2 separate regions of the Homo sapiens genome follow, and region 1 is linked to region 2. The links come from fine-mapping of genetic effects on gene expression. A gene starts in region 2. The other region holds a variant in brackets. All regions are shown on one strand. Distances are between the middles of the regions.

Region 1 (5,323 bases), 34 kb after region 2:
CACCCAGGCTGGAGTACAGTGGCATGATCTTGGCTCACTGCAACCTCTGCCTCCCAGGTTCAAGCGATTTTCCTGCCTTAGCCTCCTGAGTAGCTGGGACTACAGGCGCCTGCCACCACGCCCAGCTAATTTTTTTGTATTTTTAGTAGAGATGGGGTTTCACTGTGTTAGCCAGGATGGTCTCGATCTCCTGACCTCGTGATCTGCCCGCTCGGCCTCCCAAAGTGCTGGGATTACAGGCGTGAGCCACCATGCCTGGTGCCTTGGACACATTTTGAAGTTAGCTGATTATCACACTTAGGAATGTAAGACCTAGATTTGAGTCCTATCTTGGCCTTTTGCTACTATGGGACCTGGAGACTGAATTCATCATATGTAAAATAGGATCATTGCTTTTTGCTTTTTTGTTTCATGCAGTGAAGAAAAAAAGATGAGATAGTACATGTGAAAATGCTCTGTAAATGGAAAAAGTATATAAACTCATAAGATATGCTGTCAGAGTTGGGTTAGATTCCTGATTCTGCCACTTACTACCTGGGTAATCTTGGACTCGTTTATTCAGTTTCATTGAGTGGTGTCGTCCATTTAGTGTTGCTATAACAGAATACCCGAGGCTGGGTAATTCATGGAGAAAAGAGGTTTATTTGGTTCATGATTCTCATGGCTGGAAAGTTCAAGATTGGACAGCTGCATCTGGTGAGGGCCTCAGGCTGCTTCCACTCATGGCAGAAGGTGGAAGGGGAGTGGGTGTGTGCATAGAGACCACATGGCGAGAGAGGAGGCCAGAGAGCCTAGGGAACCAGACTCCCTATCATACCAGCCCACCCTCTGCTCACAGTCGAGTCCTGCCGGAGCTAGAATCCAGGCCCTCGCCACAGTTCATTGCCTCGGGATCTGCCCTTGAGCCCTGAACACCTCCTACTATGCTCCACCTCCCAACACTGCCACATTGAGAATCAAATTTCACCATTAGTTTCTGAGGGAACAGACTCAAACCATAGTAGTGAGCCCTGATTCCCTTATCTGTAAATTGACGTATTAGCACTAACCTCATAGCATTTTTTATCTTATTTATTTATTTATTTATTTTTTGAGACAGAGTCTCACTCTCACCCAGGCTGGAGTGCAGTGGCACGACCTCGGCTCACTGCAAGCTCCACCTCCCAGGTTCACACCATTCTCCTGCCTTAGCCTCCCGATTAGCTGGGACTACAGGCACCCGCCACCATGCCTCGCTAATTTTTTTTGTATTTTTAGTAGAGACGGGGTTTCACCTTGTTAGCCAGGATTGTCTCAATCTCCTGATGTCGTGATCTGCCCACCTCGGCCTCTCAAAGAGCTGGGATTACAGGCGTGAGCCACCGCACCCAGCCTCTTTTTTTGTTGTTGTTGTTGTATTTTGAGTAAGGGTCTCTTTCTGTCACCCAAGCTGGAGTGCAGTGGTGTGATCTCGGCTTGCTGCAACCTCTGCCTCCTGGGTTCAAGCAATTCTCCTGCCTCAGTCTCTCAAGTAGCTGGGACTACAGGCACGCCCCACCATGCCCAGCTAATTTTTGTATTTTTAGTGGAGACAGGCTTTCGCCATGTTGGCCAGGCTGGCCTCAAACTTGAGTTTGGGAGCACCTCGGCCTCCCAAAGTGCTGGGATTACAGGGGTGAGCTACCACGCCCGGCCAGCAGTGGCATCTTTTATCAGACACACATGCAGTCGTGATAGGGCCTCATCAGTAATGAGCAGGATTGGGCTTAAGAAAACATTCAGATGAGGATTGAGTGATTTGCAAACTGAGATGAAATCCTCTCTTTTTCATTTTGTTGGGGAGGGCTGGCTGTGATAATTAAAACAGGTTTTGTAACATAAAATCAAATTGACACAGGCTGGGCGCGGTGACTCACTCCTGTAATCCCAACACTTGTGGAGGCAGAGGTGGGCGGATCACCTGAGGTCAGGAGTTCAAGACCAGCCTGGCCAACATGGTGAAACCCCGTCTCTACAACAATACAAAAATTAGCCAGGCGTGATGGCAGGTGCCTGTAATCCCAGCTACTGGGGAGGCTGACGCAGGAGAATTGCTTGAACTCGGGAGGCAGAGGTTGCAGTGAGCCAAGATCGCACCATTGCACTCCTGCCTGGGCAACAGAGCGAGTCTCAAAAAAAACAAAACAAATTGACACATAGTGTCACTTGGTAAATGACAGTTATTGAGATGAATACAGTCAGTTCTCTGTATCTTTGGGGTCCACACCTGTGAATTCAACCAACTTTTTCTTTTCACTCCCTAAACACTACGGTATAACAACCATTTACATCGTATTAGCTATTTTAAGTGCTGTAGACATGATTTGCA[A/G]TATAGGGGAGGATGTGTGATGGTTGTATGCAAATACTACGCTGTTTCATATAATGGACATCTAGGCGGGGACTGGGGTTTCCTGAAACCAACTGTGCGTTACATCTTCAGAAGCTTTTTCAGTTCCTTTCAAGCCTGTTGCTTAGGTTGCGCAGTCTACACACCAAGACAAGGGCATTCCTCTGCGGGAGTAAAGGGTACCATGTATCTTTCTCAAGTCTTTGAAAATGATTATTTCCTGTGCTTTTTTTTTTGCAGAGCTGGTGGAGTTGAGATCTATAATGGAGATCGTAAAATAAAGGTTTCCAACACCCTGGAAAGCCGGCTGGATCTCATAGCCCAGCAGGTGAGTGTGGGGGTACTTCTTGGTAGTTGGTCTGCTGTTACTTTGAAGTGGGACAGAGAACACGTGTCCATTCACTGGTATTTGGGATTTGTTGCTGTCTTTCCAGTTTTGGACATTTTCTCAAAAAGAATGAGAATTGGGCATGTAGTAGCATTTGCTGAGGTGGTAACATTTACATGAGGGTGAATTTGGGGTCAGAACAAGTGTTTTGTTGACCTAGGATTCGAATATGTACATTTTACTACATGTAAGGTGCTGACAAGTTCTTTCTCTAACAGGAGTGATGGGAACTAAAGCAAATACTTGTGTTTTTTTGTTTTGTTTTGCTTTTTTGAGATGGAGTTTCACTCTTTTTTGCGCAGGCTGGAGTGCAGTCTTGGCTCACTGCAACTTCCACCTCCCAGGTTCAAGCGATTCTCCTGCTTCAGCCTCCCGAGTAGCTGGGATTACAGGCACCTGCCACCACACCCGGCTAATTTTGTATTTTTAGTAGAGACGGGGTTTCACCATGTTGGCCAGGCTGTTATCAAATTCCTGACCTCAGGTGATCCACCCGCCTTGGCCTCCCAAAGTGCTGGGATTACAGGTGTGAGCCACCGTGCTCAGACACAAATACTTATTTAAAGGAATTATCATAAAGCTGCTGGCTTTTCAGATGTTTCCAGATTTGTACACAGGAACTCTAGGAAACAAGCCAGGAAAATTCCATTTGTTCTAAAATGCTGGGCATCTTCTAGACTTCTAGTGGGAGTCTATTGCTGTGGCTGCCAACCTAGTTATTCCCTGACCTAGATATGCAGTTTACTGTTTATGCAGATACTTGTCTTATAACTAAAGCACTTTCACCTTGATTTTTTCATATTCTGGTAACTTAAACCTCAGAACATTGTTTCCTAGTAGCCACTGTCCCATCCAGTATCATAGCCACTACTCACTTACGGATATTTAATTAAACCGAAAAATTCAGTTTCTCAGCACACAATAACCATCTGTAGCTAGGACTGCCCTGTTGGACAGCCGAGCCTTGGAAGTCCAGGGTTAAGTTCTCCTAAGGATTCATCAGTGGCTGTAGCAAGTGCTTCCAGCCTAAGCTGGCATTGGAAGTGTTCTTTGCAGCTGCTGTGGCCATAGTAGGCACTCAGTAAATGTTTGTTGAAGAAAGAGTGTAGGTGACCCAGCATATTGTGGTGAGATGATTATGATGAGTTAAGTCTGAGATAGTAGTGACTTTAGGTTTTTTTTTGTTTTGTTTTTTTTTAATGTGTCCCTTTTGTAAGCAGTCTGAACCCCAGATTTGGGATGAGTTAAGTTTCTCACCAAGGAATGTGTTACTTGCTTCAGGGAAGGAGAGGGTGGCTTTGATGTGCGTGGCTTTGTGAGTCCTTCCCAGCCACATAGAGGTTCATGGCTTTCCACCTGTGGTTAAGATGTGCAGCACTCTGGCCAGGCTTGGTGGCTCACGCCTGTAATCCCAGCACTGTGGGAGGCCGAGGCGGGTGGATCACGAGGTCAGGAGATCGAGACCATCCCGGCTAACATGGTGAAACCCCGTCTCTACTAAAAATACAAAAAAATTAGCCAGGCATGGTGGCAAGCACCTGTAGTCCCATCTACTTGGGAGGCTGAGGCAGGAGAATGGCGTGAGCTTGCAATGAGCGGAGATGCGCCACTGCACTCCAGCCTGGGCGACAGAGCGAGACTCCGTCTCAAAAAAAAAAAAAAAAAAAAGATGTGCAGCGCTCTACAACTTCTTCAGCTGACATTGCGTATTTATTACACTTTCTCTCCACAGATGATGCCAGAAGTCCGGGGAGCCTTGTTTGGTGCAAATGCCAACAGGAAGTTTTTGGACTAAGCCTTCAGGAGGTGGAGCTCGTCGTCAGCTCTCCTGCTGTGATGTGGAAGCTTCTGATATTTGAAGAAACACGAATGTCTCTGTAGCTTCCTCTTCACTGCCCCAGTATTGCTCTGTATTTATCAGCGATGCCCCTCTGTCACTCATGCCTTGCCTAATTGTTCACAATGGTGGAAAGCTTCATGTAATATGATCAGGACCCACCTCCAGTTCTTCTGAAAGTGTGACAGTGTCCAGCCGGTTCTGCAGCACTAGGGGAGGGGGCAGATGGTGGTTGCATGGGCTTCCTGGGTCTCCACTCTCCGTCTGGCCTAAAGGTGATGTATTTGGTGTTTGGCCCTGCAGTCCCCACTCTTGAGGCTTAAGGCGCATGTGGCACACCACTCCTTCCAGCAGTAGTCGCTTTACTGTTACCTGTTTAGGCCTAGAAGTTTTCCCTCATCTGTAAATGTGATTTAAAATCTAAGCCATGAATATGCTTTATTTATTAAAAGAGTTATGCGGATTTAATGTGATTTCTAGTGTAAGGCACTACAAATTTAGGTTTTGACAGAGTCAAATTCTTACTGAGGCACCTAGAAAAGAAGTATTTTCCCAATCCCCGTGGCACTTGATGGTGACAGCTGTCAGCACCTGGACCCGTTAACCCTCTGGGGGTCCCCTGGGCTGTTGCCCGTTGTTCCCAGCCCATCACCAGGAGCATTCTTTCCACCCTTGCAATCTTCCACACACCCCACATGGCTCTTCAGCGTGACGTGCACAACTTTATTGAGGA
Region 2 (5,310 bases):
ATAAAGTAAGGTTATAAGAAGGTTATAAAAGGTTAAAAAGTAAGGTTATTAAAAAAAGGTTATGGCTGGGCGCGGTGGCTCACGTCTGTAATCCCAGCACTTTGGGAGGTGGAGGCAGGCAGATCACCTGAGGTCGGGAGTTCAAGACCACCCTGGCCAATGTGTTGAAACCCCATCTCTACTAAAAATGCAAAAATTAGCTGGGCGTGGTGGCAGATGCCTGTAATCTCAGCTACTGGGGAGGCTGAGGCAGGAGAATCAATTGAACCCGGGAGGCGGAGGTTGTGGTGAGCCGAGATTCTGCCACTGCACTCTAGCCTGGGCAACAGAGCGAGACTCCATCTCAAAAAAAAAAAAAAAAAGAAAAGAAAAAGAAGGCCGGGTGCAGTGGCTCACACCTGTAATCCCAGCACTCTCGGAGGCCGAGGCAGGTGGATCACGAGGTCAGCAGTTCAAGACCAGCCTGGCCAACACAGTGAAACCTCATCTCTACTAAAAATACAAAAATTAGCCATGCATGGTGGCAGGCACCTGTAATCCCAGCTGCTTGGGAGGCTGAGGGAGGAGAATCACTTGATCCCGGGAGGCAGAGGTTGTAGTGAGCTGACACCATGCCGTTGCACTGCAGCCTGGGCGACAGAGTGAGACTCTGTCTCAAAAAAAAAAGAAAGGGTTATAAAGTACATTGATGGATTGATGGGACAAAGGAATTTGTTTTTTTTTTTTTTGTTTTTTTGAGACGGAGTCTCACTCTTATTGCCCAGGCTGGAGTGCAGTGGCACGATCTTGGCTCACCGCAACCTCTGCTCCTGGGTTGAAGCAATTCTCCTGCCTCAGCCTCTCCAGTGGCTGGGATTACAGGCACACACCACCACGCCTGTTAATTTTGTATTTTTAGTAGAGACTGGGGTTTCTCCATGTTGGTCAGGCTGGTCTCGAAATCCCGACCTCAGGTGATCTGCCCACCTCAGCCTCCCAAAGTGGTGGGATTACAGGCGTGAGACACCGCGCCTGGCCCGGGACAAAGGAAATTAATGTTCAGCCTAGTAAACTAAATTTCCTGAATTTGCTACATCCTCGTTCTTATGACACACTAAAATAGGAAGTGTGTGTGTGTGTGTGTGTGTGTGTGTGTATGAAAATAAAGTGTTAATGTACATGTAGCAAAATGTTAACAATTGTTGAATCTAGGTGAAGGGAGGTCAATGCAGTATTCTTACAAGTTACTATATCTCAAATTTCTTCAAGATAAAAAGCTAATAAAAATGGTGGGTAACCATAGCACAGTAAAAAGAAAAAAGTGGGTGTACCATTTGACCTCTTATTCTACTATTAGGAGTCAGTCTATCCTAAAGATAAAGGAATTTTCAAAAGTTTTTGCCTTTGGGATTTTGGGGAAAAAAACGGGCTTGAGGTAAATCCAAATAAAAACAAATGAGCCTGGGGGGATTTCTGTCCTAATATTCCTCTAAATGGGACCTGGGAAGGCTTTTGAAAAATATATAGGCTATCTCAGAAAAGTTCCAAATAAATTATGTAGCTGCTCCACCCTAATAAGGAAGTTGAGCATAGCTTCCCACTCCCTAGGTGTGGGCTTTGTATAGTGGCTTCCTTCCTAAGACTACAGTATGGAAAGGGGGTTAAAAAAGGTAACTTCAGAGTGGAGAAACCTACAAACCCTACACTTTATTCAGGTAATCAAGGTTGACATGAATAGTCAGAAATCATGTATCCCCCTTTTTTTTTTCTTTTGGTAGAGACGGGGTTCCTCTATGTTGTCCAGCCTGGTCTCGAACTTGAGGTCAAGCGATACACCCGCCTTGGTCTCCCAAAGTCTCCGGATTGCAGGCGTGAGCCACCACGCCCGGCCAACAATCATGTACCCCTAAGCCCATAACCCTGTGTAATTATGCGAAAAATTCCAATAAAGGCACATTCTCCAATATACCTAACCAGTACTCCTCAAAACAGCCCGACTAATTTCAGATAGAGGAACTCCTTATCTTTTCTTCCTCCTACCCAAGATCCCAGTTTAGGAAAAAAATACCGGTCAGGTCACGAGTCAGCGACGTAGAAGGACCCGAGGACGCGCCCACAGGCCGGGACAGGGCGGGACTTCCTGGGCGTCGCTCTCTTCCCATTGGCTGAGAAGGGTCATGAGGATGAACTGTGCAGTCACCTGGCAGGAACCGGAACCCGCGGTTATAAAGTAAAGGAACCCGAGATCTGCGCAGGGGTTCCCTTTGCCGATTTCTCTCACCTCACCTTTCAAACCTAAACTCGAGCCTACTGTTCACCGGCCTAGCATTGCTCTCGCCATGGCTCTCAGCGATGCTGACGTGCAAAAGCAGGTGAGGGGCTTGGTTGGGTCTTACGAAGCCGCGGCGGCAGTCCCGGGGAGTGGGCTGGAGCCCGCCTAGGGAAGGCCGCGGGCCTTGAGCCGCCCAGATGCCGCAGGAAGGTCCCTTGCTCCAAGTCACCAGATCCAAGAGGTCGGCCTGAGGACGGAGATTTGCCCCGCAGCTCATGTGACTTTTGCTCGGGTCTTGGGCACTGCCCGCTTGCCTGCGCGCTGCCTTCTTGAACGCCCTGGCTCTTTGCCTCCCACCTCAGCATTCCCTGTTTTCCAAGGGTATTCACTGTGCCTAGTCGGACAGAGATCTGTGCAAGGATTGAAAACAGCCTTGTGGCCAGGGGCAGTGGCTCACGCCTGTAATCCCAGTATTTTGGGAGGCCGAGGCGGCCGGATCACCTGAGGTCAGGAGTCCGAGACTAGCCTGGCCAAAATGGTGAAACCCCGGTCTCTACTAAAAATAGAAAATTAGCCGGACGTGGTGGCGCGCGCCTGTAATCCCAGCTACTCGGGAAGCTGAACCCGGAGGCGGAGGTTGCAGTTAGCCGAGATCGCGCCTTTGCACTCCAGCATGGGCGACAGGGCGAGACTCCCTCTGGAAAAAGAAAAAAAAAAAACAAACCAGCCTTGTCACTTTTTTTTTTTTTAACCCTGAGGGAAATGCTTAAGGCTATATGATAGGAAACAGTGCGGAGGGAAGAGACCTGCTTCCAACCAGTGTTTTGACAAGGTCGTTCACTTTATGAACTGTGTTTTTTTCTTTTTTTCTTTTTTTTTTTTTTGAGACGGAGTCTCACTCTGTCGCCCAGGCTGGAGTGCAAGGGCGCGATCTCGGCTCACTGCAACCTCCGCCCCGGGTTCAAGTGATTCTCCTGCCTCAGCCTCCCTAGAAGCTGGGATTACAGACTCGCGCCCCAAGCCCGGCTAATTTTTGTATTTTTTTTAGTAGAGGCAGGGTCTCACCATATTGGCCTGGCTGGTCTTGAACTCCTGACCTCAGGTGATCTTCCCACCTGGGCCTCCCAAAGTGCTGGGATTACAGGCATGAGCCAACGCGCCAGGCCTGTATGTACTGTTAATCTTCATTTTGGGGAAGTCCCCTCTATCATAATGGATTGTAATGATTGGTCTCCCACTAATGTGTGTGTTAACATTTGTGAGATACAGGCTGGGGCCGGGCATGGTGGCTCACGTCTGTAATACCAGCACTTTGGGAGGCTGAGGAGGGCGGATCACCTGAGGTCAGGAGTTCGAGACGAGCCTGGCCAGCATGGTGAAACCCCATCTCTATTAAAAATACAAAAAATTAGCCGGGCATGGTGGCGGGCGCCTGTAGTCCCAGCTACTCGGGAGGCTGAGGCAGGAGAATGGCGTGAACCCGGGAGGCCGAGCGACCCTGGGCGGCAGAGCGAGACTCCCTCTCAAAAAAATAAAAAAAAAAAGATTGTCTGGGCCTAGTGGGGTGCGCCTGTAGTCCCAGCTACTCAGGAGGCAGAGGCAGGAGAATCGCTTGAACCCGGCAGGCGGAGGTTGCAGTGAGCCAAGATTGTGCCACTGCACTCCAGCCTGGGTGACAGAGTGAGACTCCATCTCAAAAAATTTTAATATTAATAAACACAAATACACGCCAGGTGTGGTGGCTCACACCTGTAGCCCCCAGCACTTTGGGAGGCTGAGGTGGGAGGATCGCTTGATCCCAGGAGTTCAAGACCAGCCTGGGCAACATAGACCTTATCTCTAAAAAATTTTTTCTTAAAAAATAAGCCAGGCTGTCTGGGCATGGTTGCTCATGCCTGTAATCCCAGCACTTTGGAAGGCCGAGGTGGGCATATCACCTGCGGTCAGGAGTTCCAGACCAGCCTGGCCAACGTGGCAAAACCCTGTCTCTACTAAAAATACAAAATTAGTGGGGCGTGCTGGCATATGCCTGTAATCCCAACTACTAGGAGGCTGAGGCAGGAGAATTTCTTGAACCCGGGAGGTGGAGGTTATGGTGAGGCGAGATCACACCATTGCTGCCTGGGCAACAGAGCGAGACTGTCTCAAAAAAAAAAAAAAATTGCCAGGTGTGGTGGGGCACACATGTGCTCCTAGCTACTTAGGGAGGCTGATGTGGGAGAATCATTTGAGCCCAAGGGGTCGAGGCTGCAGTGAGCTATGATCATGCCACTGTGCTCCATCCTGGGTGAGAGAGCAAAAGACCCTGTCTCTAAAAATATTAAATAAATAAACAAAATTGTGTCAAATGGAAGACCGCTTTTTCTTTTCTTTCTTTTTTTTTTTTTTTTTTTTTGAGACGAAGTCTCGCTCTGTTGCCCAGGCTGGAGTGCAGTGGCATGGTCTCCGCTCACTGCAAGCTCCACCTCCTGGGTTCATGCCATTCTCCTGCCCCAGCCTCCCGAGAAGCTGGGACTTACAGGCGCCCGCCACCACGCCTGGCTAATTTTTTCTATTTTTTATTAGAGATGGGGTTTCACTGTATTAGCCAGGATGGTCTTGATCTCCTGACCTCGTAATCTGCCCACCTCGGCCTCCCAAAGTGCTGGGATTACAGGCATGAGCTACCGCGCCTGGCCAGGACCCCTTTTGCTTACATTTAGGAGCCTCAATGCCTAACGGTGTTTGGCACCAAGTAGATGTATCAGAGTTTATGGGAAAAAATTGTTGTGGAAGTCGTGAACCCACATCAGTTTTCAAAGTGTAATCAGTCCTGGGAAACTTTTTTTTTTTTTTTAAGTGCCATACCTTCAAGTCTGTAGGTATTAAGAATTTTGTCATGCAAAAGACTCTCAGGGGAATATAGTAGCAGTTTATAAGCCTATAACTAACAAATCAGAATCCTTGCATTTAGTAATCATATTGCCGATAGATTTTTCAGAGAAGGAAGTTTAAGGCTGCAGTTTTAATTTGCACATAGTTTAGAGAACTAAGTCCTTTTTTTTCTGAAGTACTGTGCT

What was found.
Region 1: its variant is fine-mapped to the expression of ATP6V1E1 in whole blood (INTERVAL, PIP above 0.99).

The regions. Positions count from the first base shown.
Region 1 is chr22:17,591,899-17,597,221 of GRCh38, reverse strand. ATP6V1E1 (ATPase H+ transporting V1 subunit E1) reads left to right here. Exons shown (of 9, transcript NM_001696.4): 8 at 2,606-2,693; 9 at 4,486-5,086. The coding sequence ends at 4,548. Among named protein-coding and RNA genes, the nearest start is that of SLC25A18, 31 kb to the right of the region's middle. The variant A/G (reference allele first, on the strand shown) is at 2,348.
Region 2 is chr22:17,625,644-17,630,953 of GRCh38, reverse strand. ATP6V1E1 (ATPase H+ transporting V1 subunit E1) reads left to right here and starts at 2,205. Exons shown (of 9, transcript NM_001696.4): 1 at 2,205-2,351. The coding sequence starts at 2,319. It also overlaps a transcript of BCL2L13 not described here. RefSeq lists enhancers at 2,080-2,249, 2,191-2,280, 2,361-2,510.